3 linked regions of the Homo sapiens genome follow. The protein of the gene in region 1 interacts with the protein of each later gene in a biochemical or structural test. Each region holds a gene or a part of one and is shown in the gene's direction. Other genes may lie near its edges.

Region 1 (10,696 bases):
AGATCAGAGGGGCAGCCAGGTTCCCTGCCCTCTCCACAGGAAGCGTCTGTGTCCACTCCCCACCACAGCTAATGGTAGACCATTGTGTATCAGGCACACATAGGCCTCACTAAACTCAGATTCTGGCCAGAACATGGTGAACCTGGGCCACAACACTACATAAGGGAGCCCACCTGGACCTAGTCCCTACTGTGAAGCCTGACATTTACAATCATTTAGCAAACACACAGAAGGGGGGGGTCATGAGACCAAAGCAGATGCCAGATGCCTGCTGTACATGGGTTACTATGTGGCAGCTGCTGGGGGGGTCATGATTTCCATCAACCCTGTTGACAAGGCAGGGAGGTTTCTCCACCACAGTGACATTGCTCCTTCATAGGACACTTCTGGCTGTTTGTTGCTTAATGCAAAGGTTGGGCTAGGGACTGTGGGTTTGTAATTGTTGTTGTGATTGAAAGAATAGCAATGCATCAAAGAAAAGTGCTGCCAAAATATTTATTTTAATAATATTGCTCTGACATTTATTTCCACATTCTGCTATATTGAATAACCTTGCCTTTTTTTCTTTTACATAGACTCCAGTTGCCTCTCAACAGAATGCTTCAAGTGTTTGTGAAGGTAAAATCTATTATTTTGAAGGATGAGCATGTCCTCTAAAAGTTATTTTATTAAGGATTTGTATGTACACATTTATTACATTATTTTTGGGGCAATTGTAAACATGAAACTCAATTTTCTAAACAAAATAGTTTTTGCAATGAGCAATGAACAGCAAAACTAGCTCAGAACCTCAGCATGTTTAGAGTAGGCTACAGAATGCATGCAAAAACCTGCCTTTTGGCAGACAGATATGACTTGCCAGGCAATAGTGCTAGGACCTTACATAAATGTGAAAACTAACGTAGAGCCATTCACATGTTTTAGAACTAATAGCTTACTTAAAGTAATGAAAACTTTAAAAATCTGTTTATTTGAACAAGTTCTTTTGCTAAGTTTTCAAGATAATGTTTTCAAAGTTCAATTGTCTGTCTTCTTAGTACATCTTCAATTGCTTTTCTTCCTTTTTTTTTTTTTTTTTGAGTTAGGGTCTCACTTTGTAGCCCAGACTGGAGTGCAGTGGTGCATAATTATAGCTCACTGCAGCTTCAAATTCCTGGGCTCAAGTTGTCTTTCTGCCTCAGCCTCCTGAGTAATTTAGAATTTCTTCCTTTATCATCACTCAAAAATCTTATATATATTTTTAGAAACTGCTCATGTTAAAAAAAATTGTGTTTGGAAATTACCGGAAAAAAATAGAAGAATCATCTATAATATCAGCACTTAAAACATTATATAGAAGTTCATGCCCTGTACCCATTTAATTCCATACTTGAAGATACCCAGGGTTAAAAATGTAGTGAGTATTCTCCCTCTTCCCTGAGTTGATGTGCGTATATCTACATAAAGCACTCTCCTTTCTCTGATGATGGACAGTGGATCTTTTCTGAGCATGCACTACAACTCACCTCTCTGCTTTAATGACGCCATTAGGTTTTTTCATCCTGTCTCCCATATCTTGCTTCCCTAGGCTATTTCTGAGGCATCACCCCTTTTCTGCTGTATTGCTTTCTTCTGCCTTCCCTTTGAGGCTTTTGTCTTTTCTGTACTTCCATTCCTTGCAGCCTCTCAGACCTGCTGAGTCCAGGTTGTGGAGTGATAGTGACTTCAGGAGCTCTGAGCATCTGTAGGAAGTAAGTACAACCTGTGCAGACTTCATGGCTACAAGAGCCTCCAAAATCCAGGAAAGAAGCAGGGCCCAAGGCATGTCCACTGCTGCTTAGGTGTCCTCATTCTCAAAGGGTTCCCAGTACAGGAGCCTGCCAGGCATGCCCCCTCCTTTGTTATTTATTTCAAGAGCATAGGCAATTACCATCCAAATGCAAAGTGAGTGAGTGGCCTCTACTAGCCTAGGAAGGAATCAGGATGGCGGAGGCAGAGCAGGTGTAGTCAAAGCTTATAGGCTGGCAAGACCTAAGGTGTTCATTGTTTCTCCTTCTGAAATTACCAAGTTTTAATGTCATGAGCAAAACATCTAACATAGAGGTTTGAAGTAGCTTGCCACAAATTCAAAATACAATCTTCAGAGGTTCAAGGTTTCCAAGCTTTAGTGCACCACTGAATGGTAAGAAACCCTGACGTCTATCTTACCATTTATTTGAATCTTTGAGTTCTTACTACTTTTATTTCTTTGGGGTTTCTGTAGTTCTCAGCCTTTCTTCCATGCAGACTCACACATGAACATACCAAGATTTTAACACACCCCACCCCCCAACGACAAATTTGAGGGAGAGTAAAGTATTAAAATAATGTGTGATCACATTTATTAATGGTTCAGCAGTAGAGTTCACTATGGGCTTCAACATAAATTTCTTACACTTCAGGTTTATGCTCATTTCCCACCCTTTCCTCTTCTGCTCAGGAAAACACTGAAATGCAAGTGAGATTTACATTATTATAGGGATAACCTTGAATTTGATCCAATTAATTTTGCAAAAAGAGATCATTTATGAACTCAGTAGTGTGCCTCTTATCAGTAACACACTGCTTATACCACGTCTTATGACTAATCAAGACCCACCAGGGTGTTGTCTCCACCTGTGTGGAGGCCACATGGCAAGTAGAGGGTGAGTTGTTTAGAGGGTGGCTAAAATGTTCTCATCTTCTGGCTTCCACCTATACTCACACACTTAAAGTTTCAGGGCCCGTGGGTTCAGTCTCTATGTACATTGCCAGTGGATGAATGCAGAGGTGGTAGGATGTACCTGTAACACTGCTGGGAGGGAGTCCTGGTCCTCATAGCACAACCACATCAACAGACTGGCAAGTGCACAGATCCATGACATCTCAGTAACTAAGACATGTTCCCGGGAAGACTTCTGATCAAATTTGGTTCTTCTCAGCTGATGTTGCTGGGTTTTGGGATGAGGACAGACATTTCACTCTAATCCTAATATGATAATTTTCCTGATCCAGAAAAACCTATACCTGCTGAACGCCACCGAGGGTCAAGTCACAGACAAGAAGCTGTGCAGTCACCAGTGTTTCCTCCTGCCCAGAAGTAAGAATCCTTTCCTTTAAAGATCAGTTTCCTCTTGTTGCTGCAGGAATTAACATGTGCATTGTTTCACTGCACAGTGACACTGACTTGCAGTGCTAGGTAAAAATCCAACATTTCATTGTTTTGCAGTTACGTGTTAAAAGGTGTTGAGCAACTTTAAAATAACTGTGTAGAGTTGCAGAGACCTACTAATTGGGTTAATTATTGAACTTGACTAAAATACAATACTTTAGTCAAGATTTCCTCCTTTTTCAAAACTAAAAGGAAGAGTCTTACTTATCTTTAAGGTTTTGGTGGCTCTTTTATCTTTAGATACATTTTATTGGCCATTTGTATTGATTTATTTGTGATGTGCCTGTTCACAGCATCATCAGTGTAAACAAAAAGTCAAACTTACTCATATTGTGCTTTGTCCTTTAATTATCTGAAATTCTTTCTTGCAGACAAATCCACCAAAAACCCATACCTCTGCCAAGTAAGTACAACGAAGCCATGTAGTGTATCAGGGAGTGGTCGAGGCTGGATCCTAGAGTCTGATAGGCCTGGGTTCTAACACAGCACTGTCGCTTCCAGCTGCGTTATCCTGGCATCTTCTCCCACTTGTTTCCTTACCTGTAAAATGGGGCCAAGAATGTTTATTTCACAGAGTTGTTTTGAAAAGTAAATATATTTGAGGCAATTTTTACTTTTTTTAGTAGCGATTTAATATTTTACTGATCATGCATCCTTTTTTAACTTTTTTTTTTTTTACAAAAACAATACAGCTGTTTTCAAAATAATAAGATCAAGTAAAACAACATATGGGAAGCACCAGCTATAGTGTTTGGTTCTAAACAAATAATACCGATTTAAATTAAGTCAAAATATATTTTAAAGATCACAAAATATGTCTACAAAAGGTACCTTAAAAAGAAGATACGGCAAATATCTGGATAATTTTTCCAAGGCAAACATCACCCTAAAAATATATGAATCGGATAAGTCAGGCTCACAGAACGTAACTGCCCAAACCTTAATTTGCCTGCAACTCAATGTGGGAAAAAAAGGAAGAAAAAAACTCTGCTTTACATAGATAATTTGGGATATATTCCAAAATAATAAAGCTTAAATCCATTTAAATAAACAGTAATTGTCCACATGCAAAATTTTTATGCATTTTTTTTACTAAACATAAATTGGCTTTTTAAATTTTTAATAATATTCATCTTAAATAAATGAAACTTTTACTAGTTTTTAAAAAAAATTCTGACAACACAAAGTGAAAATGATTTGGCTACAGAAATTTATTTTTCATTATTTAAAAAGGTTTATTATACCTTTTACCGTTTTTCAAACCAAGTCATTCATTCAGTTGTTAGTGACCATATGCCGTGTGCCAGGCATTGTTCTAGGCACAGGAGATACAAGGATGAACGAAACAAATAAAGACCCTGTCCTCATGAAACTTATATTCTACTGAAGGAGACAGAGAGTAAAAATAAACGCACAAATAATATCATATCAGGTAAATGCTGAAGTGCTATAAAGAAAAATACAGCGCAGCAGCAGGGGTGGGTGGCAGAGAGTAACGGAGGCAGGGAGGGCTGCTGCTGTAGACAGGATGGTCTGAGAAGGCCTGTTCTATAAAATGGGCATAATAGCTCATTCCACAAAGAGCTGGTGAAAGGACGAGATGCACGCATGTTGAAAACAGAATAGGCCTAGCACATTCGGGTGTCAGAAAATATTAGCCATGGGTACTCTTCCAACTGCCAGAACTGCAGAAACCACAAACTGCCCTGCACTGTGCACCTAGGGAAAGTCTGTTCACTCACTCACCTTTGCTGCTCTCACCTGGGAGTGCTGTTCCCCTCCTATTAGAATACATCCTTCCTTTTGGCCCATCTTTGTTGGGCCTGCCAAGCCCTCACTGCCCCCTCCTCTTACAATGGTGGCTGCCTTCTCTAAACATCCAGGGCACTATTATCTGAAGCACTTAGTTTATCCAGAATTCTTTCTCCTGCAGATTTCCCCATCTTAATAAAGGACAACTCTGGTTGCTGTTGTCAAAAACCTTAGAGTCACCCTTGACTTCTCACTTGCTTTCTTCACACACCTTCCAGCTATTCCTTCAAAATAGATCCAGAATCCAACCACTCTCACTGCTTCCACTGCTGTGATCTGTCCAAGTCACTGTCATCTCCTGCAAGAACACCGAACTGGCCTCCCCCACTCTGCTGTTGCCACCCTCTGTTTCCAGCCCAGCAGCTGGAATGACCCTGTTAAAACATAGGCAGATCATGTTACCCCCCTGTTCAAAACCCTCCAAAAGCTTCCCTTATCATGTTCATTACAGCTCTTGAGTCATGTTAAGGGTCCACCAAGTCCTATAAATCTGGTCCCTTCATTGCCTCCTGTCTGACTGTATCTCTTACTCTTCTCCCCTTTTCTTACTGTACTCCAGGCACAGTGGCACCCTTGCTATTCCTTAGATATGCCAGGCCTTGCCTTCACAGCTCCCTCTACCCGGGACATTCTTTCCTGGGATGTCCAGTGCCTCCTCCCTCTCCACCTGCAGATCTCACCCACATATTCTTCCTTTCCTGATTTATTTTTCTTCATAGCATTTATGACCCTCTAACATTATATATATATTTTTTACTTATGTCTTTATTGCCCATCTCAATCCATTAAAATTTAAGTTCCAGGAGAGCAGGGCATTTTGCTGTTTTGTTAACTGCTGTATATCCCCAATGCCTTTGATCCATGGCAGAGAAACAAGAATGAATGAATGAATGAATGAATGAATGAATGCAGATAAGTCTTTTTCGTATTTCACATGTTTCCACATTTAGACTGTAAACTCTTTGAGGGAGTTGATGCCTGAAGTCAGCAATTCTCAGACATTTTGGTCTCAGAACCACTTTAACACTCTTAAAATAATTGTAGACCCAAAGAGCTTTGGTTTACATGTTTCTATTGATACCTAGTATTTTAAGAATTAAAACTGAGACATTTAAAACATTTATTAATCCATTTAAAAATAATATTAAACTCATTACATGTTAACATAAATAATATTTTTATGAAAAATAACTATATTTTCCAAACAAAAACAATTTAGGGAAAAGAGTGGCATTAGTTTACATTTTGTAAATCTCTTTAATGTATGTTACTGCAACATAACAGAGACTGCTGGATTCTCATCTCTGTTTCTACATTTCATCTGTTGCAATGTTTTTCTGGTGGAACTACATGAGGAAAATTGGGTTTCATAGTGATAGGTAATTCAAAAAGAAAAGACCTCTTGAACCACCTGAAAGGATTTTCGAGATTTCCAGGGGTCCTTGGACCACACTTTTGGAACCATTGCCTTAAGGATTTTTTTTGGTGGATGTGTCCCTGGCAGCACCTAGTACAGTGTTAGGGGATAGGCATAGAAAGAGTTCAAGAAATATGAAGATTAATTGAAGGACTTTTCTGATCCCTTTCAGGATTTACAGAAGGGGGAAACCCAACTGTGGATGGGCCCCTACCCAGCTTTTCATCTAATTCCACTATTTCAGAACAGGTATGAAATGAACTCTTGATGTCACTAAATTGTTACCAGGAAACTGCAGGAAAGAGCATGTCTTCTGAGAAGAAGACATTTGGAGTGAACCTTGAGAACAGAGACTGTATTTTACATCATTATGTGAACTGTCATTTGGTAATAGGGACAGAATACCCAGTTGTTGTTTTTTTTCAATGACTAAGACATTGCTCCAGTTAATGTTTCCTCAAAACTAGCAAGGAAATGTGTTTTCATTATTCTTCCTCTCACATAGATTTTATTTAAACTTTGTAATTTCCTCCAAATAGATCTGTAGAGGCTGATGATATTAAATCACATATAAGACAGCACAGTTTATAAAGGGACAGAGAAAGGACTCTGTGTGCCCTTGGGCAAGTCTTTCTAAGTTTCCATACAAATATATGTAAAAATGTAAAATACGGATAATAGCATGTGTCCTTCTTGCCTTCAAAGAAGGCATATATCCTTTCTTGCAAGAATCAAATAAAATAATATTTGTAAAAATGCTTTGGAAATTGTAAAGCACTCCACAAAGTAAGAGCAATAAGAGCACAATGGAAAGGGGGATTATTACTTATTTAGGAGAAAGAAAGAAATAATTCAGGAACCTAGCTAAGGCCAAATGAAAAAAAAATACAAAAAACAAGTTAACGGTATAATCCTTGTGTTTGATCAAAGGAAAAATAAAACTCATCTTAAAATTATTGGTGTAAATGTAGAGGCCTGTCTTGATAATGCAAATGGGTCTTTGTTTCTAGTACACAGAAATTAGAGTTAAGTAGGGACCATCCCATGCTGACCAGTGCCCTCCATTTCACAGGAAGCTGGCGTTCTCTGCAAGCCATGGTATGCTGGAGCCTGTGATCGAAAGTCTGCTGAAGAGGCATTGCACAGATCAAACAAGGTCTGATCATTTTTATTATTTATTATTTTTATTTTATTTTATTTTATTTATTTGTTTTGAGATGATGCAGTTTCACTGGAGTGCAGTGGCTCGATCTCAGCTCACTGCAACCTCTGCCTGCCTCCCAAGTTCAAGTGATTCTCATGCCTCAGCCTCCCAAGCAGCTGGGATTACATGTGTGTGCCCCCAAGCCCGGCTAATTTTTGTATTTTTAGTAGAGACGGGGTTTTACCATGTTGGCCAGGCTGCTCTCGAACTCCTGACCTCAGTTGATCTGCCTGGCGGCCTTGGCCTCCCAAAGTGCTGGGATTACAGACGTGAGCCACCGCGCCCGGCCAAGGTCTGATCATTTTTAAATCACACGTTTTGCCCTCAGCCTGTAATAGACACAGTTGTCGTCCTTATGATATGCTAATTAAATAATTGCAACAAGTGTAGATACAAGGATCTTTTTCCTTTACTTACTCAAGAGAAACTGCTATCCCCTCCTCTCTTTCAAGTTCCTCCATCTCATTTCTACTTGTCCTTTCATCTCCTCAAGGACCCACAGCCTCCACTGCCCTCCAAACAGTGGGAGACGAGAAAGCTCCAGGGGAGGTCTATGGAAGGCTTGGTGCTGCATGAGCTCCACTGAGGAGTGAACAGTGACAGGCTATTTTGGATCAATGTGCAGGATTAAAAATTTGAGTCAAGATGGCAAACAAACAAACAAACAAAAAATACCTGGAAGTAAATGTTTGGAGAGCCCAACTTCAATCATGTAGGAACACCAGGGACAGCTTGGACAATTCAAGATTAAAGTGACACTTTTTCTTTCTCTCTTCTCCTCCCATTTTCTTTTTCTTTGTTTTCTTGCACTCCACTTTGTCAGAATATATAGCATTTACATACTGTTCTTCCTCACCCTTGTTTTAGTCCTAGCTCTACAAGTAAATATATTAGTGTGTTCCGTCAGTCCTTTGGTGGACTTCCACCATTGTCTCTTTCCTTTGATGAAGTGTACCTGTAGTAGATTCTGAGGAAAAATCGTGTTTACATTATTCCCTGAGTTCCTTTATATTCAAAACTATTTTCTCAGCCAGGCGCAGTGGCTTATGCCTGTAATCCTAGCACTTTGGGGGGCCGAGGTGAGTGGATCACTTGAGGTCAGGAGTTTGAGACCAGCCTGGCCAAGATGGCAAAACCTCATCTCTACTGAAAATAAAAAAATTAGCCAGGCGTGATGGCGGGCGCCTATAATCCCAGCTCCTCCGGAGGCTGAAGCAGGAGAATCGGTTGGGCCTAGGAGGCGGAAGTTGCAGTGAGCCGAGATCATGCCACTGCTCTCCAGCCTGGGCAACAAGAGTGAGACTGCTGTGGGGGAATAAAAAGAGAAAGAGAGTTAAAAAACTGTTTTTTCATATCCTAGTAGTTGGAAGAAATCTTGGCTGGCTATAAAATCCTTAATTTGAGTTTGAAAAGTGTTGCTCCACTAGATTGTGTTGTTCTGTATGAAGCTCTTGAGAAGTCTGATACCAATGTGACTTTCTTGCCCTTCTATGTAATTTGATACTTTAGTCTGGTGGCTCTGCAGACTTTTTGTTTTTAAAGTCTAATCATTTTACCAGAATATATCTCTGAGTTGATAATTCCAAATCAATTTTCTCAAGTAGACAGAAGCCCTTTCAATACGTAGATTTAAGTTTTCTCTTATATCCAATAAGTTTTCTTAGATCATAGTCTTAAAGGGTTGTTCTGTTCCCTTATTTGTTTTTCTTCTGCAAGCACTCAATTTACATGCGTTTTGGATCTTTTTTGTCATTTTTTCTCCCATCACTGTCTTTGATTCTATGGTACTTATTTTATTAAATCCCATTTTCTCTCCTGGTTGTTTCCACACCTTCCTTCAAGTGTCATTTCTTAAATCTTCATTTGAAGCTCTCGTCCCTTGGACATCTTATAATTTGTTCTTTGTTGAGATAGGCTTGTCTTTTTCTTCAGTTTGTTTCCTGAGTTTGATCAACTCTTGTTGCATTTCATTCTGCTTTTTGTCCATCTTTTGTTCGTAATTTTTTATTTTATGATTCTAAATATTTTTATTAAAAAATTTAATAAAATTTGAATTACTGTCTTACAGTTTGGGGATTTTTTTTTCTTTTTCTTTTTCTTTCTTTTTTTTTTTGATGTTGTCTCGCTCTGTCACCCAGGCTGGAGTGCAGTGGCACGATCTTGGCTCACTGCAAACTCCGTCTCCTGGGTTCACGCCATTCTTCTGCCTCAGCCTCCCGAGTAGCTGGGACTACAGGTGCCCGCCACTATGCCCGGCTAGGGATTTTTTTTCTTATAAAAGTTCTTTGAGGAGAGAATTTTCATAATGAGGTCAGTCTGACCCAAGATTTTAGTCCAGGGGCAAATATAAAATGAAAGTTTTGATTCCCAACCTCTGTTTTCTTCTTATAGTACTTATGAATGGAATTTGTTTGATACATTTTTTTTCATAGACAACTGGTGGCTATGGTTCCCAGTTCAAGAGAGTCCTCTAGATTTGATCTTAATGTGTCCCTTCACATATTTCTAAATTTTATAAACATAAAACCTTATTTAGCACATTAAAAAGCTAGCATTTAGCTGGGCATGGTGGTGCATGCCAGTAGTCCCAGGTACTCAGGAGGCTGAGGTGGGAGGATCGCTTGAACTCAGGAGTTCCAGGCTGTAGTGGACTGTGATTGCACCACTGCACACCAGCCTGGGCAACAAAGTGAGACTGTTTCTAAAAATAATTAATTAATTATTACCTTTTTTTCAAAAAAGGCAAGCATTGATCTCACTCAGGATTTTCTATGAGTATATATTTTCCTGGACTATTTTCTTAGAAAATAAGAAGACAAGCGCTAATCAATAATAAAAATAATGTAGCTAAATAATTTACCTTTGGAATGTAATATAGGTGTTCTTCACAAAATGATTTTTTGAACCTGTAGAAATATAAGTAATACTAACCATAATTATGTTTTTTAAAAAAAATTAAACAGGATGGATCATTTCTTATTCGGAAAAGCTCTGGCCATGATTCCAAACAACCATATACACTAGTTGTATTCTTTAATAAGCGAGTATATAATATTCCTGTGCGATTTATTGAAGCAACAAAACAATATGCCTT
Region 2 (10,696 bases), on another chromosome or scaffold:
AAAAATGTGACATATTTCTTAGGAAAGAGAGTAGCTTCTTACCTGCCAGTGCTAGCTTATGGGCTTAAAGGAGATGGTTCAAAGAATTTCTGGTAACAGAAAGATAATAGGAGCTTGAAATACCCCTGTTGACATCTTGCGAATAAACATTGTGAAAAGGTCTTTGATCTCTTTGTCGTTAAGTCACTTGGAACATGCTTTTCTTGTAAAAGGTTAGTTCCAGTGTCCAAAACAAATTTTAGCTCATCTGATTACCTTCTGCTGATGTAAATCCCGTCTAGCATAGCCTGTATCCTAAGTGGTCCATCCTACAAAGTTCCTGCCGAAGCCTGACTGGGCTGGCCCACCTGCCCAGTGATGAGTGAGTCATCCATATCTACATCTCCTGCTCAAAGAGAACTCCACCATCCCAGATGTGAGCAGCCTGGAGGTGGTGACATTATCACCGTGTAACATACAATTTTGTTTTGCCTTGATCTCCAGGCATGAGGATGACGTTCAACACTTCAAGGTCATGCGAGACAACAAGGGTAATTACTTTCTGTGGACTGAGAAGTTTCCATCCCTAAATAAGCTGGTAGACTACTACAGGACAAATTCCATCTCCAGACAGAAGCAGATCTTCCTTAGAGACAGAACCCGAGAAGACCAGGTATGCTCCAGATCCAGTCGACCCCAATCTAGAGATTTTAGGCAGCCTGAGTTCTCACATGAACCACCAGGAAAAATGCATAGGATGGGTAGATCCTCTGAGTATACTGAAAGACAGAGCTCAGAGCTCTGAGGTCAGATCTCAACTTAACACTTCCTAGTCGTGTGACTTTGGAAAGTTCTCTGCGCCTCAGTTTCCTCATCCATAAAGTAGGGACAATGGTAATATCTACCTCCCAGAATGGCTGTGAAGGTTGGAGAAGATAATGTATCCCACGCCTCATGTCATTCCTCATCACACTGCGCTCAGCAAGCATCAGCTCTTACCACAGGTGCTGTTTTTTTGTTATTCATAGACATTGCTACACCAAAGTTTTCAACCTAGCTCAAGAGTTGCCCAAGGATGAAGGAGTTGGGGGTGCTACAGACAGGGACATTAGGGAACAGCCTAGAGTTCAGGAGTTAAATCAGCATGTGGAGTTTTATGATGGGATTGGGGGTAGGGAGGACATGGGAGGAGAAAACTGCACTTGGAATTATTGCTGTTGCAACTGTTTGCAATACAGACTATTGCTTTAAAAGGAAATGCGTCAGACAGACCTGGTATGAAATCCTGCTTTAATCGCTTAGCTACCTGTATTACCTAGCCAAGTTAAGAAACCATCTGAGTATCAGTTTTCTCATCTGTAGAATGGAGAGAGCAATAAAACCTCCCTCACTGGGCTGTTGTGAGGATTAAATGACTTAATACAGCTAAGCACTACCAGAGTCTGGTCCATATTAAACACTAAGAACATGTTAACTTGCCTCCCATAAGTAAATTCACACATGCACACACTCACACACACACACACACACCAATTTATGAACTATTTTTCAAAGGAAATAACATGGTTATAAGAGACAGGTATCATAGGAAGAAGCATTCACTAGAATAGCTGAAATCCTAGGGACAGGTTATTTGAAAAGATATTGAGACTGTGAAAGCAATGTGTGCTTTGGGGAAGTCAAGAAAATCCTCCTTTTTCGAGTCCCTAGTTGCTTTTAAGCCTGAGAAGTTACTGCCAAAGGAGAAAAGAAGTTACCACCAAATGCACACAGAAGTTCAGAAAGGAAAACAAAGGCTAGCCAAGACCTTGTGAATCACTCTAACCAGGAAACGGACAGAGGTATTAACTCACTAGGATGGGCATTCAGAGAAGCAATATAAAATTGCATTAAATGGGATTAAATGAGTTGATATTTGTAAAGCGCTTAGAACAGTGCCTGGTATATGCTGCCCTCAGGGTCCTACATAATTGTTTGTTAAATGAAACTAACAATACGGTATTTCTGATTTGTAAGGTTGTTGTAACATTAGGGAAAAAGGCCTTACTTCTTCCCCCACGTCCAGCCCGGCGGCAGGCCTGGTTCCCATGGTGTTGCAAGAATGTTGCTGTTTGGGTCTCTATCACCAGGCTGTAAATGACAGTTCAAAATCATGCAAAGTCAACAGTGGAGCTTATCTGGAGGGTAGATTGTCCAGTGGTGTGGCAACATGTGATAAGAAGGGGTGGCATTGTATCAGTAAAATGGAATATTTCAGCTTGATTACACAGAGAAAAAACGAGCGCCCTGGAAATGGACTAAATGGCTACCAGGCAAAAAGTGTTAGTCTGTGAACCAGAGACCTGCACTCCTAAAACTGGGAGGATCTGAGAATGCAGAGGCCACTTTGGAAAATGTGAAGGTCTAAAGCATCAATTATCTTTTAGCTGCCCCCACCCCACCAGCTATTTCTTGGAGCCAGATGAGCAGGGTCTGGGAACAACTGCCCGAGGGTAGGGTAGGGCCAGACGATCAGAGAGGAGGATGCATCTGCAGCATCTCTGTTCTTTCTCCCAGGGTCACCGGGGCAACAGCCTGGACCGGAGGTCCCAGGGAGGCCCACACCTCAGTGGGGCTGTGGGAGAAGAAATCCGACCTTCGATGAACCGGAAGCTGTCGGATCACCCCCCGACCCTTCCCCTGCAGCAGCACCAGCACCAGCCACAGCCTCCGCAATATGCCCCAGCGCCCCAGCAGCTGCAGCAGCCCCCACAGCAGCGATATCTGCAGCACCACCATTTCCACCAGGTATCTGGAAAGAAGGCAGTGGGCACAGTACGGTGGAAAGGAGAACCTGCCTCCCCTCCAGGCCTGGCCCAGCCTCTTGAGTTCTCAGAGAGTTCATGATGAAGACCCTGGACCCCCCCAAATGGCAGAAATAGGGAAACTGTTCTTGGCAAAGACATCTCTATGAATTAAATGGCTCCCACCTGAACACACACACACACACACACACTGTCTCACACACACACACACACTTAAACTCACACACACACACACTTCCCCTGAGGACCCAGTAAACAATTGCTTCATTTTCCTATCAGCACAATTCCAAATCTATTCATGCCCCTTAGCCCATCTGGCTGTCAGATCCACAAGAGAAAAAGGCTTAATACCCACAACAGAGCCTTGTTTATTACTTATTTATCTCCCTCCACCCTTGTTCCCGATGGGATTTCAGGCGGCTTACTGAGATGGACAATACGGCCAGATAACATCATTCCTGAATTCCTTAGCAGGGCACACAAAGTCCTTTGTGAGCTGCCAGAATCTATTTCCCCAGCCTCGTCCCTGCTGCCTCCCTGCCAACTCCCCGTGCAAACACACATTCCAGCAACCCCCCACGCTGCCTTAGTTACCCGAATGGTCCATTGCGTTTCCTCTCATGCCTTTGTGGCGTTTTATATGCTGATCTCTCTGCCTGATGAGCCCCTCCCTGGGCAGTCCTACCCCTCTAAGCTGGAGTTCAAGCATGACCTCCTCTGTGAAGCCTTCCTTGATTTCCCGGGCAGATACAGACATTTCTTCTCTCTGCTCACTTACCACTTAAATGTGCATGGTTCCCCCTCTAAATGGAAGCTCCATGAAGCCAGAGACCTTCTCTTTCCAGCTATATTTCCCTTGTGTCTGCTACTGGAAACATGGTAGGTGCCTGATAAATATTTCTTGACTGAATAAATAAAACCTGCCTTTGCCTTCTTTGCCTTCAGAATCTAAGGTGCCTTTAGACCTTAGGTCCTCCTCAACGTGGAGGGTTTATTGTCATTATCAGTAAGTATTCCTGGAATATACCGGCTCTGTGGATGGCATCTGAGCAAGGCACTGGGGGAACCGGTGGGAGATGTCCTGGCAGTGGGGTGACCAGTCTTCTGTTGTATGTTTCTAGGAACGCCGAGGAGGCAGCCTTGACATAAATGATGGGCATTGTGGCACCGGCTTGGGCAGTGAAATGAATGCGGCCCTCATGCATCGGAGACACACAGACCCAGTGCAGCTCCAGGCGGCAGGGGTATGGGAACTGTCCTTCTCTGGGATCCCTGGGGAAAGGCCTTGGGACAGAGGTCAATGGAGGAGATGAGGCAGGAGAGACTCAAACCACACAGATCTGGCTGGGCACGGTGGCTCACACCTGTAATCCCAACACTTTGGGAGGCCAAGGCAGGTGGATCACCTGAGGTCAGGAGTTCGAGACCAGCCTGGCCAACATGGTGAAACCTCACGTCTACTAAAAATACAAAAATTAGCCAGGCATGGTGGCAGATGCCAGTAATCCCAGCTACTTGGGAGGCTGAGGCAGGAGAATTGCTTGAACCCAGGAGGCAGAGGTTGCAGTGAGCCGAGATTGCGCCATTTTACTCCATCCTGGGCAACAAGAGCGAAACTCCGTCTCAAAAAACAAAACAAAACAAAACAAAAATGCACACACAGATCAACGAGAGGTGATGGAATGTTTGGGGAGGCCTGGGGCTGAGCCAGCACCGTCCAGTCTGTTGATCTCAGTCTGGTGCCAGGCCTTCCCTGTTCTCATAGTTCTCAGTTCTAGTTCTTTATCATCTTTATCATAGTCCTTTACCATTGCCTTTATCATTGCATCTTTTTTTTGTTTTTTGAGACAGGGTCTCACTCTGTCTCCCAGGCTCAAGTGCAGTGGCACAATCATGGCTCACTGCAGATTCAAACTCCTAGGCTCAAGCGATCCTCCTGCCTCTGCTTCCCAAGTAGCTAGGTATATTATTTGTAGCGATAAGCTCTTGCTATATTGCCCAGGCTGGTCTGGAACTCCTGGGCTCAAGCAATCCTCCTACCTCAGCCTCCCACAGTGCTGGGATTACAGGCATGAGCCACCGTGCCTGGCCTGTGATCCATCTTGACTTGTGACTTGATTGCCCTAACACCAAGGGCTGTTGTTTGGGGCATGTTGCCCTTCTGTTTGTCACTCAAGATAAAAATACCACCTATTGATGTGGAGAGAGTGGTTCTCAGGGAGTCTATTGGGGCTTTGGACAATAACATCTGTTGGTAAAAGTCCTGGGTCTCCAGAGTGACGCTGGTGCGTTCTGGGAACTTCTTGCTCAGGCCTGTGCATAGGTATCTGATTTAAATTGCAGCAGGGTAGCCGGGCATGGTGGCTCACACCTGTAGTTCCAGCTACTTGGGAGGCCAAGGCAGGAGGACTTCTTGAGGCCAAGGGTTCAAAACCAGCCTGAGCAACATAGCAAGACCCCATCTCTACAAAAAAAGTTTTTTTAAGCTGCAGAGGGGTCAGCCTTCAGGGAATGTTGCTCTCAAAGACTTGGATGTGGTGGGAGGAGCCAGCAGACCCTCCCCTGCCTGCCCAGCCCACAGCTCAGCAGAGCCTCTTCTGTGCTTCCCCCAACAGCGAGTGCGGTGGGCCCGGGCGCTGTATGACTTTGAGGCCCTGGAGGATGACGAGCTGGGGTTCCACAGCGGGGAGGTGGTGGAGGTCCTGGATAGCTCCAACCCATCCTGGTGGACCGGCCGCCTGCACAACAAGCTGGGCCTCTTCCCTGCCAACTACGTGGCACCCATGACCCGATAAACTCTTCAGGGGACAGAAGCTTTTTGTCTGGAGCTGCCCACAAGAAAGAGGGCAAGGAAAAAAGGCTGGACTCCATGACTATATATACATACATCTATCTACATCTGCCTGTGTACACACACAACTTTTTATACTAGTAATTTATTGGCAATTGGGCTGGTAATTAGTTGATGCAAAAGGGAACTCAGGTGGAGAATAATATTGACACTTGCTTTTCTGCCCCCCTCAGGGGTGTGTGGAAGGCAGTGGGGGAGTTGGGAGGGGGGCAGGGAAATGAAATGGAGTTTTGTCCTGGCCTTCAGCTGTCACTGCTTCCTCCTTGTCTTGGGAATTTTCACGGAGAACAGCTAAGCAGAGACCACACCTCGGCACTGGACACAGAACAACAGGGTGGGGTTGAACTTGGTGGGGCACGTTCTAGCTGACCTGCAAGCCCCGCTCACCTGGAGGGCTTGCAGAGCAGCTCTCCTCCTGTTCTCCAAGGGGTGGGCACTGTTGCATTAGGAATTAAGGTGCAGCCCAGTGCTGCGGGCAGCCAAGCGAGTCTGAGCGGGGATGTGAAGGCAGGACGGGGTTGGAGAGACCCTGCCTGTGCAAGGCTGGCCTCCTAGTCAACACCTAGCTGAGACATTCATCTCTGTTCAAATTAATATTCCTTGGGTCTTTCAAATGAATGTTTCAATGTGAGGAGCGAAGTACTGGGAAATCGAGGGATTTTCCACAATCCCCAAGCAGCTTACTCAGTGGAACCTCTGTTTCCCCAGCTATGAAGGAAATAGCATCCTACATTCCGTAAAGTGCTTGAAGAAGCTCTAGCTGAGAATGCTGAATTTTACAGTCATTGTTTTATGGTTACAAGGGTATGTCTTCAGGGCTCTGTTCATTTTCCCTCTTGATTTTCTCTTTTGAAGATGCCTTGCCCAGTGGCATGGAAAGAAGCCCACTTGATGATAGGAGCCTGACTATGAATTGATTGACTAAACATGACCCCAGGTGGAAGCTGGCTTTGACACCAGCTTCCTGTTCAGTCTGACCACTGCTGTCCTCCTGCTGCCCAAGAGTTGCACCTGGAGCAAGGAACCCCACCATGGCTGTCGCTCTCCATCCCATCACGCTAGAATCATGTGTCCAAGGGCTCACTCTGGAGGTGCACAGCACAGGTCAGCCTGGCCAGGGGCGAAGGAGACAGTAGAGAGGAAGCTCAGGGCCTTAGGGGAGGCCGGGTGCAAACCCGTTCTGCACCAAGTGCACTCGGAGTTTGTGGGTATGGGTGTGTACCCCTGCAGGTGTGCACATGTGTGCTTGCACGCACATATTTGTGCACTCCTGTGTGTATACATGTGTGCTTGTGTATGCATATGTGTGCATTCCTGCATGTGTGGACATGTGCGTGCATGCATCTGTGTGTCTGTGTGTGTGCTGAGACAGGAAAGGGGGTGAAAGTGTTGGTGAGGGAGCCTGGAAGTTTTCTCTTCCCCAACCTCTCTTGCTCTAAGGAGGGATGGGGTTGGGGGCAGCCGTTATTGAAGGTGATCGGAGAAGAAAGATTTTCTGACTCAGAAGTGACTGCCAGTGTAGCACAAGCAGTGTCCCTTGTGACTGTGATTCTACAGTTCTCTGATCCTCATGTTTCCTTTAGAGGAAAGAGGAAAAAAGGAACTCTGTGGTGGGTATTGGGAGGGAAAAGAAAATAGCCTGGTGGAGGCAGGAGGGAGTCGAGTGTGAGTAAGGAGCACCTGCAGCTTTTGGAAGTGAAAGCAGAGAGAGGGAAAGGTAGCTAAGACATCCAGGAGGATCAAGGGGCAGCGTGAGAGGCACAGGGGGAGGAAAGGGAGAGGGTGAGTGGGGCCAGGGAAGAGAACGGTGTGGAGTTGGTGGGCAGATGGTGCAGGAGGAGGGCTGGGCAGTGGGGAGAGGAAGAATCAGAGCAGAGAAACCGCTGCTGCGGAAGGCAGGGAGCAAAGAAGCATAAGGAAAAGAACAGGAGAAAGAACAAAGGCAGAGAAGACCTCCTCAGCTATTTTGGTGCTAGGTAATGTGAAATGCTGCAGTAAATAAAAGCCATAAGTAATGTTTGATTTTACAGTATTTACAAACCATATGCTTTAAACAGCCCACAAACTCCATCCAGTTGTCTGATGATGTGGGAGGACCAGCTCTAGTTAGACGGAGGTATGTGATTCGATTCTGGTGGAGACTTTGTGCCTTGAAAGGCTTCTCAGGAAAGCAGTAATAAAACAAAGTGTCCTTGTTTGGCCAGGCCGTGTCTGGTGTCTGCGTTGCATACCCCTCAGGTAGAGAGTGAGAACGAGACCAGGGGGTGACAGGGGTCATCGGCCTGCAGGAGCTGACCCCGTAGGCAGGCGGTATGAGCAGAGCTTTCAGAACCCCTGGAGCTCGGTGTTCTGTTGTAGCAAAAGCTACTGAAGAGTATTTTGTACTGAGATGCCAAAGCATCTTTCCCTTGCTCATCAGCCTCCATTCAGAAGGAAGCGGGAAAGTCACCCAAACCACCTACAAGGAATGAGGGCTCTTAGCGGCCAGGTAAAGAGGACAAGAACCAAACTGTCCACATTATGGAGGGGAGGGGGAAAGAGAGCTCAACCCCCCTCAGCCTCTGGTGCTGCCAGGGGGAGCCCCTCCGCATGTGTCCCCACGGGCCCTAGTTTCTACCTGACAGCATTTCAGCACCAGAGGAGGGTTGAGCCAGCTCCTCTCACCAGCCACAGAACCAGCAGCCAACAAACACATTGTCCCCGAGTTTGGCTGCAACACTCTATGTGACTTGGGAACTTGAAGCTTCCAGAGAAAAGCCAGGTCCTGTTGGACCAGTTGTTGGGTTTTCCTAACCACTTGCTGTGCCTCACCGCATTTCAAATATCTGGCACCTGCCACTGCCCACCCACTTTTAGATGGCCCTAGGGTGATCTAACCATGGTGCTTCTCAAAATTTAAAGTGCCTACGAATTGCCTGGGGACCGTGTTGAAATGCAGCTTCCAACTTGGTCCTGAATTTCTAACAAGCTACTGGGTGCTGTTGCTAGGTCCACATGTTAAGGAGCAAAGGCAAAGAACTTAGCAGTGAGCACAACTCTAATTGGGCTCTTCTTCTGAGGATATTCGGCCATTTTTTCTTCGCTGCTAACGAATAGGTCACTTTGGCTTTGGGACAGATGCAATTCAGAACGGTCATTATGACGTCATTCATATTTGGCTACCCAGGTGACTTATTATTTTAGCATCCTTATCTCTAGAATTAAAAAAATGTAATGTGAGAGGAATTCAGATGAAATGCAAACAGGAATTTCCTATAATAATTACTATTTCCTAATAGTAATTATTTTAAACATCAGCAGAGATTGCAGAAGTTGTAAAAGCTTTGTCAGGAAATCTTCAGTCATAAAATTGACTCTGGTCAGATGTGGCCCTGGTTGAGGCAGGGGACTGTGCTCCCAGCTAACCTAAAACACAACAGCCCACACTCGGGACAGATTAGCATGGCCAAAATATTTACTGTTTGCCTTGTCTAAGCCAACATTTTAGCCCCTCTATACCAAGGCAAGTGTGTGAGAAAAACCTTGATTGTCTCAATGCTTTTTAAAAAATGCCTCCTCAGTTCCTCCACTTTACTCCATCACCTTGGCCATGCCACCATCATCTCTTCCTTTGGCAACTGTCAGCTTTCATACCTTTCTCCCTGCATTCTCTCCCGTAATCTGGTCCTCCACACAGATGCCAAAGCGATCTTTGTAAAAATAAATCCGATCACATCACTCCCCTTCCCACTGGATTTAGGCTTAAGTCCAAAGTCCTAATGTGGCCCTGTGAAGTCCGGCCCCTGCCTCCCTCCTCAGCCTCCTCTTCTGCCTCCCCTGCCCCTTGCTTTTATGCTCCTGCCCCACTGGCCTTTCAGCCTCCAAATGGCCAAGGATTTGTCCCCAAACCTTTCACACTTGCCATTCTTGCTACCTGGAGGCACATCCCCTGCTAACCCTGCTAACTCTTGTTCATCTCCAGGTCTGGGTTGGTTTTTTGTTTTCTGTTTTTTGTTTTTTGTTTTTGTTTTTGTTTTTGTTTTTGTTTTTGTTTTGAGATGGGGTCTGGCTCTGTTGCCCAGGCTGGAGTGCAGTGGCACAGTCTCAGCTCACTGCAGCCTCTGCCTCCCAAGTTCAAGTGATTCTCCCACCTCAGCCTCCCGAGTAGCTGGGATTACAGGGTCATGTCACCACACCTGGCTAATTTTTGCATTTTTGGTAGAGACAGGGTTTCACCATGTTGGCCAGGGTGGTCTTGAACTCCTGACCTCAGGTGATCCACTCACCCTGGCTTCCCAAAGTGATGGGAATATAGGTGTGAGCCACCATGCCTGGCCCAGGTCTGGGTTTAAATGTCACTTCCAAACAGTCCTCCCCTGCCCTCTAATCTAAAATAATCCTTCCCCTAAGATGGTCTTATGAATCCTGTGCTTTTCCTGAATAGCACGTACACAGATGATGGTGCCAGACTGAGCTGTATGGCTATTACAGCTCACTGCAGCCTCTGCCTCCCAAGTTCAAGTGAACTTGGAGCTGTAAGCTCCACGGAGCAGGGGTCACCTCTGTTTTGTAAACCATTGTACACCCAGCATCTAGCACTATGCAAGGCACACAGAGGCTCAGTAAATATTTTTCTAATGAAGGAATGATTGGACCTGCTTCATCTCATCTATTTACTCATTTTGTAACTCAACTGTCTTGGGCCTAACAGACCTGTAGATGCAAACAAGGTCATATTTACAATGATGTCCAGGTTCCAGTAGCTTTAGCCACTGTCTTCGGATTCTCCTCCAGTTAACTTCTGAGAGGCCAAGAGAGGGAGGCTGTTATCTCTCACGTGTTTAGGCACCAGTATACTCACGCTTCCTACTCTGGTTCCAGTGTTCTGTTGCCCCACGCATCCTCTGCTGACAATGCCTTCCCAGATGCTGCGGATCCACTATGCACCACATTTATCTGCTGGTGAATTGACCCAATCCTTCAGGACACCAAATCTGCCCTGCAGTCCACATGACAAGGAGATTGGGGAAGAGGTAGAGGGGAGAATGGCCAGCCTGTGCCCAATTCTGAGAGGCACTGCTTG
Region 3 (9,330 bases), on another chromosome or scaffold:
GTACCCTCAGTTCTTTTTTTTTCTTTTCTTTTTCTTTTTTGAGATGGAGTCTTGTTCTGTTGCCAGGCTGGAGTGCAGTGGCATGATCTCAGCTCACTGCAACCTCTGCCTCCTGGGTTCAAGCAATTCTCTGCCTCAGACTCCCGAGTAGCTGGGATTACAGGCGCTCACCACCCTGCCCGGCAAATTTTTGTATTTTTAGTAGAGATGGGGTTTCACCATCTTGGCCAGGCTGGTCTTGAACTCCTGACCTTGTGATCCACTCGCCTCGGCCTCCGAAAGTGCTGGGATTACAGGTGTGATCCACCGCGCCTGGTCTTGGCACCCTCAGTTCTAACCTTGAACTTCCATTTCTCACCATAACCCGACCTCCCATCCTGGACCCCCATTTTTGACTGGGCTAACCCTACCATGATCCTCACTCCTAAGTCCCACTTTTCTGACCAGAGCAGCCTCTAATCTAATCTCCAATCTAAAATTCCCATTTCTGACCAAGAGTACCCCAAATTGATCTCTTCATAGTAACTGAATTTGAAATCAACTCCCTTGAAACGAAGCTCTCACCATTCTGCTCTTTGGCTCACCCAGTTTCACTCTCTGCTCCTTTAATATAAACTCCTAAATTCCCTGATCCCCAAATTAATATTCCAGATGCCCCAATAATGACCTCTGCTCCCCAGAACAGGTGCCCTGGGCCCCTCTGTCCCCTCCAAATCTCCACAACCCGTGAGATCTCTGCCCTGCCTCCTAGGTTGGCGTGGGACGGCAGTGGGGTCCCGCCCAAAGGCCTAGGTTTGAGTTGACTTGCCCCGGAACTCACATTTCCTCTCTGAGCCTTAACTTCCTTGTCTGTAAAATGGGAATGAAACAACCTCACTCTGGTAGACAAGGAGAGGTGGAGTGATGAGAGCTGTTACGTTAAAGTTCTTATTGAACTAGAACAAGACAGAAGCAAACCAGGGGCTTTCCTGCAAATAATAATGTATTTACTGCTATTATTATTCTTACTCTTGAACCACTGCAGGTTGCAGAAACTCTGGATCTGCATGGAATTCTGTGGGGCTGGTTCTCTCCAGGACATCTACCAAGGTTAGAGAAAGGACAACGGGACCCAAGCACCCCTCCCTATCCCCACCCCCCAACCCCGACCCAAATTCACCTCTTCCGTCTCTGTGTGTGTATCTCACAGGAACTGTCTTTCTGGGCCATATTTCAAACTCCTGGGCTGAGCTGATCCTCTTGCCTTCAGCTGTCGAAGTGCTGAAACTACGGGCTTGAGCCACTGTGCCTGGCTTTTTTTTTTTTTTTTTTTAATATAACTGCTGGGCCTGGTGTGGTGGCTCACGCCTGTAATCCCAGCACTTTGGGAAGCCGAGGTGGGCGGATCACCTGAGGTCAGGAGTTCAAGACCAGCTTGGCCAACATGGTGAAACCCCGCCTCTACTAAAAATACAAAAAATTAGCCGGGCGTGGTGGCAGACGCCTGTAATCCCAGCTACTCGGGAGGCTGAGGCAGGAGAATCGTTTGATTCTGGGAGGCGGAAAACCTCTGATTCCTTCCAGCCCTAGACCTCAAATGTTAGAAAAGGAAGGACGTCATTGAGAAGTCCTCAGGAGGGAAACTGAGGCCCAAAGAGAGGAAGTGAATCCCACAGCTGGTCTGTCAGACCTGATGTCTGACGGCCTCTCTCTGTCTGTCTGTCTCTCTGTCTCTCTGCCTGTGTGTTGTTCTTACCTCGTTACCCTCTGGGTCTCTCTCTAAATCTGTCTGTCTCCCCATATTTTGGCCTCTGACCTCTGTCTTTGTCTTCTGTCTCATTTTTTTGTTTTTTTCAATCCTGTTCCTTTTGTATGTCTCATGTATGATCTGTCTCCGTTTCTCTGTCTCTCTCTGTCTCTGTGCCTTTCCTTATTTTGCAAAGTCACATGACGCCCCTGCTCAGAGCCCTCCTACAGCTTCCATTTCTCTCGGAGGAGAAGCCCAGACTCCTCATCAGGGTCCACCCCATGCTGGCCAATCTCACCTCCTCCCACTTTCCTCCTCCCCCTCCACTCCACCCCACCCCCTTTGCTGCTTTCCAGACCCACCAGGGACTATCCCACCTGGGGCCCTGCACTTGCTGTGGCTGGTCCCACTCAGAGTGGGAGCCCTCATGTCTTCACCCACTGTCACCTTCAGAGAGCAGCCCTGACTGACCACCTCTGTGAAATGTCATAGCTCCTCCTACGCGCACCTTTCTTGCTTTATGTTTCTTCTTGCTGTCTATCAGCGTCTGAGGAACTATATCATATTCTACTTATTTATCTTGCTTACTTTCTTTCTTTCCTTCTTTCCTTTTTTTTTTTTTTTTTTTTTTTTTTTGAGACAGAGCCTCCTTCTATTGCCCAGGCTGGAGTGCAGTGGTACGATCTCGGCTCATTGCAACCTCCACCTCCTGGGTTCAAACGATTCTCCTGCCTCAGCCTCCTGAGTACTTGGGATTACAGGCATGCACCACTATGCCTGGCTAATTTTTGTATTTTTTAGTAGAGATGGGGTTTCACCATGTTGGCCAGGCTGGTCTCGGACTCCTGACCTCAAGTGATCCACCCACCTTGGCCTCCCAAAGTGCTGGGATTATAGGCATGAGCCACTGCGCCAGGCCTATTGGCCTCTTTTATTTGCATTGCTGCCTCTTTCTGTCACTGACCACCCCACCATCTCCCCCTCCCACTGGTCCTATCCTATTTCCCCTCTCCCTATGGCACCCTCTTAGCTGGTGTGGGGGGGCAGGACTCCCCAGCCCAGGTTCCCTGGCTCCCATCCAATGCCTGGCCTGGCCGGGGTGACCTTTGCAGTGACAGGCTCCCTGTCAGAGCTCCAGATTAGCTATGTCTGCCGGGAAGTGCTCCAGGTAAGGAGAGGCCTGGGGATTCTGGGGATGGGAGGGGAGGGTGGCCCCACTCCAGCCCCCAAACACTCACTGTCCCCTTGTCCACCCTTCTCCCCAGGGACTGGCCTATTTGCACTCACAGAAGAAGATACACAGGGACATCAAGGTGGTCTGGGGGTGTAGGGGTGCTGTTGGGGGGTGGGGCCCAGGAGATGGGAGTGGCATTTCAGGGGCTCAGGGATCAGGGTAGTTTGAGCTGGCGGAGTGGGCTAGCACTGGGCTGGGGAGAGTCTCTGCAGCCTCCCATATCCCCTCTCATTCCCAGGGAGCTAACATCCTCATCAATGATGCTGGGGAGGTCAGATTGGGTGAGTAAGGCTGGGGGTTGAGCAGGGGGGCTGACTGGGGGGCCGGAAGCGCAGTGGACCCCAGATCACTATGTCTCCCTCTGCTTCCAGCTGACTTTGGCATCTCGGCCCAGATTGGGGCTACACTGGCCAGACGCCTCTCTTTCATTGGGACACCCTACTGGTGAGTGGCGCCCAGCGGGCAGCTAGGGGTGGAGTGGGGGTCAGTGGTTTTTCCTACCCTGGTTCCCCGGGATCCTCTTTCCTGGCTCCGTTCCCCTGCCTCGTCCTTTCTCCTTGGAAGATTCTTTCATTCTCTCTGGGTGTCGCTTGAGTTTTCCATTTTCCTCTCTCTTTGTGCCCTTTTCTGGCCATTGCTCTCGGTGTTTGTGTTGATTTTTATCTTGATTTCTCTGTCCCTCCATATCCATTTCTGTCTTTTTCCTCTAGCTCAGTTTGCAGTGCTCTCTGTCTCTTTGTTTCTGTCTCTCTCACTCTCTGTCTCTGCCTCTCTGTCTTTTCATTTTGTTTTGTTTTTAGAGACAGGGTCTCACTCTGTGGCCCAGGCTGGATTGCAGTGGCATAGTCACGGCTCACTGCAGCCTAGAACTCCTGGGCTCAGGAGATCCTCCCACCTCAGCCTCCCAAGTAGCTGGGACCACAGGTGTGCACCATGACACCTGGCTAATTTTTAAAATTTGTGTAGAGATGGTGTTGTTTTTTTTTTTTTTTCTTTTTCGTTCTTTTTTTTTTTCTTGAGACGGAGTTTTGCTCTGTTGCCCAGGCTGGAGTGCAGTGGCATGGTCTCAGCTCACTGCAACCTTCACCTCCCAGGTTCAAGCAATTCTCCTGCCTCAGCCACCAAGTAGCTGGGATTACAGACGCCTGCCACCACGCCCGGCTAATTTTTGTACTTTTAGTAGAGACGGGCTTTCACCATGTTGGTCAGGCTGGTCTCGAACTCCTCACCTCAGGTGATCTGTCCGCCTTGACCTCCCAAAGTGCTGGAATTACAGGCAAAAGCCACCGTGCCCAGCCGAGATAGGGTCTTGATAAGTTGCCCAGGCTGGTCTCAAACTCCTGGGCCTAAGCCATTCTCCTTGCTCAGCCTCCCAAAGTGCTGGGATTACAGGCGTGAGCCATCGCGCCCCGTCTGCATCTCTGTCTTCATCTGCCTGTGTCTGTCTTTACTCCTGTCCCTCTGTCTCTCCATCTGACTCTCTGTGTGCTGCGTCTCCCCTCAACTCCTTCTCCTTCTCTGCCCCTCCTTCCCTTCCTGTCCCCATGCCACCTCTGGCTCTCTGAGCGTGTCTGCCCCCAGGATGGCTCCGGAAGTGGCAGCTGTGGCCCTGAAGGGAGGATACAATGAGCTGTGTGACATCTGGTCCCTGGGCATCACGGCCATCGAACTGGCCGAGCTACAGCCACCGCTCTTTGATGTGCACCCTCTCAGGTAGGCAGGCGTGGGGTCCCCAGGCCCAGAGATCCTGTCTAGCCCTGGCCCAAAGCCCACCCTCAGCTTCCGCCTTCCATCCCAGGAACCTCCAATTCAGGGATCACCACTTGAGCCTACCTTTGCACGTGCTGCAGCTCTATTTTTTAAATTTAATTTAATATTTTATTTTATTTTATTTTTTATTTTTTAAGACAGAGTCTTGCTCTGTTGCCCAGGCTGGAGTGCAGTGGCACAATCTTGGCTCACTGCAACCTCCATCTCCTGGGTTCAAGCTATTTTCCTGCCTCAGCCTCCCGAGTAGCTGAGGCTGCAGGTGTGCACCACCACGCCCGGCTAATTTTTGTATTTTTAGTAGAGACGGGGTTTCAACATGTTGGCCAGGGTAGTCTCGAACTCCTGACCTCAGGTTATCTGCCCATCTTGGCTTCCGGAGGTGCTGGGATTACAGGCGTGAACCACTGCACCCAGCCTATTTATTTATTTTTATTTTTATTTATTTATTTATTTTTGAGATGGAGTCCCACTCTTGTTGCCCAGGCTGGAGTGCAGTGGCAAGATCTCAGCTCACTGCAACCTCTGCCTCCAGGGTTCAAGTGATTCTACCACCTCAACCTCCCAAGTGTGGGATTACAGGTGCACGCCACCATGCCTGGCTAATTTTTGTATGTTTTGGTAGAGACGGGGTTTCACTATGTTGACCAGGCTGGTCTTGAACTCCTGACCTCAAGTGATCCACTTGCCTTGGCCTCCCAAAATGCTGGGATTAAAGGTGTGAGCCACCACGCCCAGACATTTTTTAAATTAATTAATTAATTCTTATTATTTTTAGAGACAGGATCTGGCTCTGTCACCCAGGCTGGAGTGCAGCGGCACGATCGTAGTTCACTTCAGCCTTGAATGCCGGGGCTCAAATGATCCTCCTGCCTTAGCCTCTCACATAGCTGGTCCTACAGACCCATATTGCCACACCCAGCTATTTAAAAAAAAAATTTTTTTTTTGTCTCACTATGTTGCCCCAGCTGGTCTCCAACTCCTGGGCTCAAGCTATCCTCCCGCCTTGGCCTCCCAAAGTGTTGGGATTACGGGCGTGAACCACCACACCTGGCCTTGCCATAGCTCTATCACTTCATAAATGGCTTCCCTTAGGAGAGGCACCCTGGTGCACTGTAAAACCTGAACCTCACTTCCATGCTGTTTCTCACTTTGCCCTCTGCTGACCACAATGCTACTAGGAACCCCTCAAGCCATGAGGTCTGGCCCCCTTGAGGGTCTGAACCCCATGTCCTTTCCCTACTATTCTAGAGTTCTCTTCCTCATGACCAAGAGTGGCTACCAGCCTCCCCGACTGAAGGAAAAAGGCAAATGGTACGAGAGAGTAACAGGAGGGAGGGTGAGAGAGGGCAGGGCTGGGGCTGGGTGGCCTGATGGGAGGGTTTCTGGTCCCCTCATCCAGAACCTGGCTTCTTCTTCCCAAGGTCGGCTGCCTTCCACAACTTCATCAAAGTCACTCTGACTAAGAGTCCCAAGAAACGACCCAGCGCCACCAAGATGCTCAGTGTAACCCTCCCTTCCCCAAGATCCTCAGCCTAGGATTCCCTGGGGCCTTCCACAACTCCCGAGGACATGGATAACTTTGTTCCATGGAGTCCCCGTGGCCTTTCCAAAGTCCCTAGTGCCTCAGAATTTCCCAGGACCACCCCCGACCACCAGAGACCCTCCGGGTTATACCCCAGACCTTTCCCAAATACCCCGAGTTGCCGGAACTGACAAATTCCCAAAGGACTCAAGACTTGTCCTGAGTGTCCTCTTGAATCCCCAGGGAACCACAGTCTCTTCCAAGACAACTCTGGAATTCTCCTAGCCCCGCTCTGAGAAACCTAAATTCTTCTAATTCCTAAAAATGTCTTAGACTCCCACCGGTCGGCTGGGCATGGTGGCTCACACCTGTAATCCCAGCACTTTGGGAGGCTGAGGTAGATGGATCACTTGAGGTCAGGAGTTTGAGACCAGCCTGGCCAACATGGTGAAACCCCGTCTCTACTAAAAATACAAAAATTAGCTGAGCATAGTGGCGCACGCCTGTAATCCCAGCTACTTGGGAGGCTGAGGTTGGAGAATTGCTTAAACCCAGGAGGCGGAGGCTATAGTGAGCCAGGATCGTGCCACTGCACTCCAGTCTGAGTGACAGGGCGAGACCCTGTCTCAAAAAAAAAAAAAAAAAAAAAAAAAAAAAAATTAGCTGGGCGTGGTGGCACGAGCCTGTAATCACAGCCACTCGGGAGGCTGAGGCACGAGAATCAATTAAGCCCAGGAGGTGGAGGTTGCAGTGAGCCTGGATTGTGCCACTGCACTCCAGCCTGGGTGACAGAGTGAGACTCTGTCTTAAAACAAACAAACAAAAAAGAATACCCCAGGCCTCTGAGTTCCCTGGATTTCCCCGCCCTCTGCCTTCACTGGCACCTTCTCCCCAGCTAGATTCCTTTAGTCCAGTCCCCAAGGCCCTGTACCAGTCCTCTCTGTCCACACCAGCCCTCTCTGTCCACACCATCCCTCTGGATACGGACACCTCTTCCCTCCGCCAGCATCAACTGGTATCCCAGCCTGGGCTGAATCGAGGCCTGATCCTGGATCTTCTTGACAAACTGAAGAATCCCGGGAAAGGACCCTCCATTGGGGACATTGAGGATGAGGAGCCCGAGGTGAGAGCCTTGGCTGACAAGAGCACTGGGGACCTCTCGGTCTTTCTCAGGCTGTGCCTGCTGCCAGCAGTGCCTTCCTGCTGCCTCTCTTAGGGGGAAAACAGGGAGGGAGGATGGGGAGCTTGGTAAAAGGCTGTGTGCCCAGAGGGTTACAGGAGAGAGCAGATGGACCCCGGGCAGGGTAGGAGGCTGCTTGGGGGTCTTGAGCCCTGACGTGGCTGCCCCTCTGCCCAGCTACCCCCTGCTATCCCTCGGCGGATCAGATCCACCCACCGCTCCAGCTCTCTGGGGATCCCAGATGCAGACTGCTGTCGTGAGTAGAGAATCCTTATGTTTGGGGACACCTGACCCTATAATAGACCTAAGAGACCACCTTCCCCTACCATCAGGCCTCCAGAGACCCTCAGCATCATCTGATCCTATAAGAGACCCCAGACAATCTCATCAGCACCTGAACTACAAAATGACCGTAGAGGCCAGGCGTGGTGACTCATGCCTGTAATCCCAGCACTTTGGGAGGCCAAGGTGGGCAGATCATCTGAGGTCAGGATGTCAAGACGAGCCTGGGTAACATGGTGAAACCCTGTCTCTGCTAAAAATACAAAAATTAGCCGGGTGTGGTAGTGCACGCCTGTAGTCCAAGCTACTTGGGAGGCTGAGGTAGGAGGATTGCCTGAACCTGGGAGGTGGAGGTTGCAGTGAACCAAGATTGCGCCACTGCACTCCAGTCCAGGTGACAAGAGCGAGACCGTCTCAAGGACAAAACAAAACAAAACAAAAACAAAAGCAAAATGACCATAGAGTTCCCAGGGAGACCTCAGAAATCTCATCAGAACCTCAATACCCAAACGGATCCTGAAAACACCCTGTAACTACATTGAGCCCCCAACTTCCTGATCCCAAAACTTATTTATTTGTTTATTTTTTTGTGACAGGATCTTGCTGTGTCACCCAGGCTGGAGTGCAGTGGTGTGATCACAGCTCACTTAAGCCTCAAACTTCTTGGGCTCAAGGAATCCTCCCACCTCAGCCTCCTGAGTAGCTGGGACTACAGGCTTATTCACCACGCGTGGCTAATGTTTTTTTTTTTTTTTTTTTTTTTTTTTTTTGAGACGGAGTTTCACTCTGTCGCCCAGGCTGGAGTGCGATGGTGCGATCTTGGCTCACCAAAACCTCTGCCTCCTGGGTTCAAGCGATTCTCCTGCCTCAGCCTCCAGAGTAATTGGGATTACAGGCGCATACTACCATGCCCGGCTAATTTTTGTATTTTTTTTTAGTAGAGACGGGGCTTCACCATGTTGACCAGGCTGATCATGAACTCCTGACCTCAGGTGATCTGCCTGCCTCACCTCCCAAAGTGCTGGGATTACAGGCGTGAGCCACTGTGCCCAGTCACTTGGCTAATTTTTAATCATTTTTTGTAGGGATGGGTTCTTGCCCAGTTGTCCAGGCAGGTCTCAAACTCTGGGTTCCAGCGATCTGCCCACCTCAGCCTTCCAAAGTACTGGGATTATAGGCGTGAGCCACTGCACCTGGTCTTGATCCCAAACTTGACCCCCAAATGAAGTCCCTGTAATCCAAGACCCCTTTCCCCAAGGGACAGTTCCCTGAGATCATTTGCAGTCCCCAAGATCCTGACTGCAACCCCCCCGCCAATTCTACTCTTTCTGTTCTTAAACCCATCTCGTTACCCCTTGCCCCCAGCTCACAGCAGGTTATCTTCCCCCACCCACCCTAGGGCGGCACATGGAGTTCAGGAAGCTCCGAGGAATGGAGACCAGACCCCCAGCCAACACCGTGAGATGCTGTCCCCCCACTCCCCACCACACCGCCTGCTTCCCTGAGGCCACTGCTGACCCTTTTCCTACCCCACAGGCTCGCCTACAGCCTCCTCGAGACCTCAGGAGCAGCAGCCCCAGGTCAGGGACCCCAGGGAGGATGGGGAGGGGGCTGGA

The links.
Region 2: the proteins of BLNK (region 1) and GRAP2 form a complex in vitro, tested with the Homo sapiens proteins (one study listed by BioGRID).
Region 3: the proteins of BLNK (region 1) and MAP4K1 form a complex in vitro, tested with the Homo sapiens proteins (one study listed by BioGRID).

What each region holds. Positions count from the first base shown.
Region 1 is NC_000010.11:96,196,933-96,207,628, reverse strand, and holds part of BLNK (B-cell linker protein), read left to right. Parts: intron 1-575; coding exon 576-618; intron 619-2,337; exon of another isoform or gene 2,338-3,012; coding exon 3,013-3,097; exon of another isoform or gene 3,098-3,540; coding exon 3,541-3,572; exon of another isoform or gene 3,573-3,709; intron 3,710-4,000; exon of another isoform or gene 4,001-4,055; intron 4,056-6,570; coding exon 6,571-6,647; intron 6,648-7,470; coding exon 7,471-7,554; intron 7,555-10,565; coding exon 10,566-10,696. UniProt on the Homo sapiens protein: Functions as a central linker protein, downstream of the B-cell receptor (BCR), bridging the SYK kinase to a multitude of signaling pathways and regulating biological outcomes of B-cell function and development.
Region 2 is NC_000022.11:39,965,507-39,976,202, forward strand, and holds the end of GRAP2 (GRB2-related adapter protein 2), read left to right. Parts: intron 1-483; coding exon 484-652; intron 653-2,535; coding exon 2,536-2,766; intron 2,767-3,904; coding exon 3,905-4,027; intron 4,028-5,398; coding exon 5,399-5,578; 3' UTR 5,579-8,215; downstream 8,216-10,696. UniProt on the Homo sapiens protein: Interacts with SLP-76 to regulate NF-AT activation. Binds to tyrosine-phosphorylated shc.
Region 3 is NC_000019.10:38,607,954-38,617,283, reverse strand, and holds part of MAP4K1 (mitogen-activated protein kinase kinase kinase kinase 1), read left to right. Parts: intron 1-1,024; coding exon 1,025-1,089; intron 1,090-2,838; coding exon 2,839-2,894; intron 2,895-2,991; coding exon 2,992-3,039; intron 3,040-3,198; coding exon 3,199-3,241; intron 3,242-3,331; coding exon 3,332-3,404; intron 3,405-4,541; coding exon 4,542-4,673; intron 4,674-5,978; coding exon 5,979-6,041; intron 6,042-6,151; coding exon 6,152-6,233; intron 6,234-7,258; coding exon 7,259-7,375; intron 7,376-7,609; coding exon 7,610-7,688; intron 7,689-9,113; coding exon 9,114-9,172; intron 9,173-9,250; coding exon 9,251-9,294; intron 9,295-9,330. UniProt on the Homo sapiens protein: Serine/threonine-protein kinase, which plays a role in the response to environmental stress. Appears to act upstream of the JUN N-terminal pathway.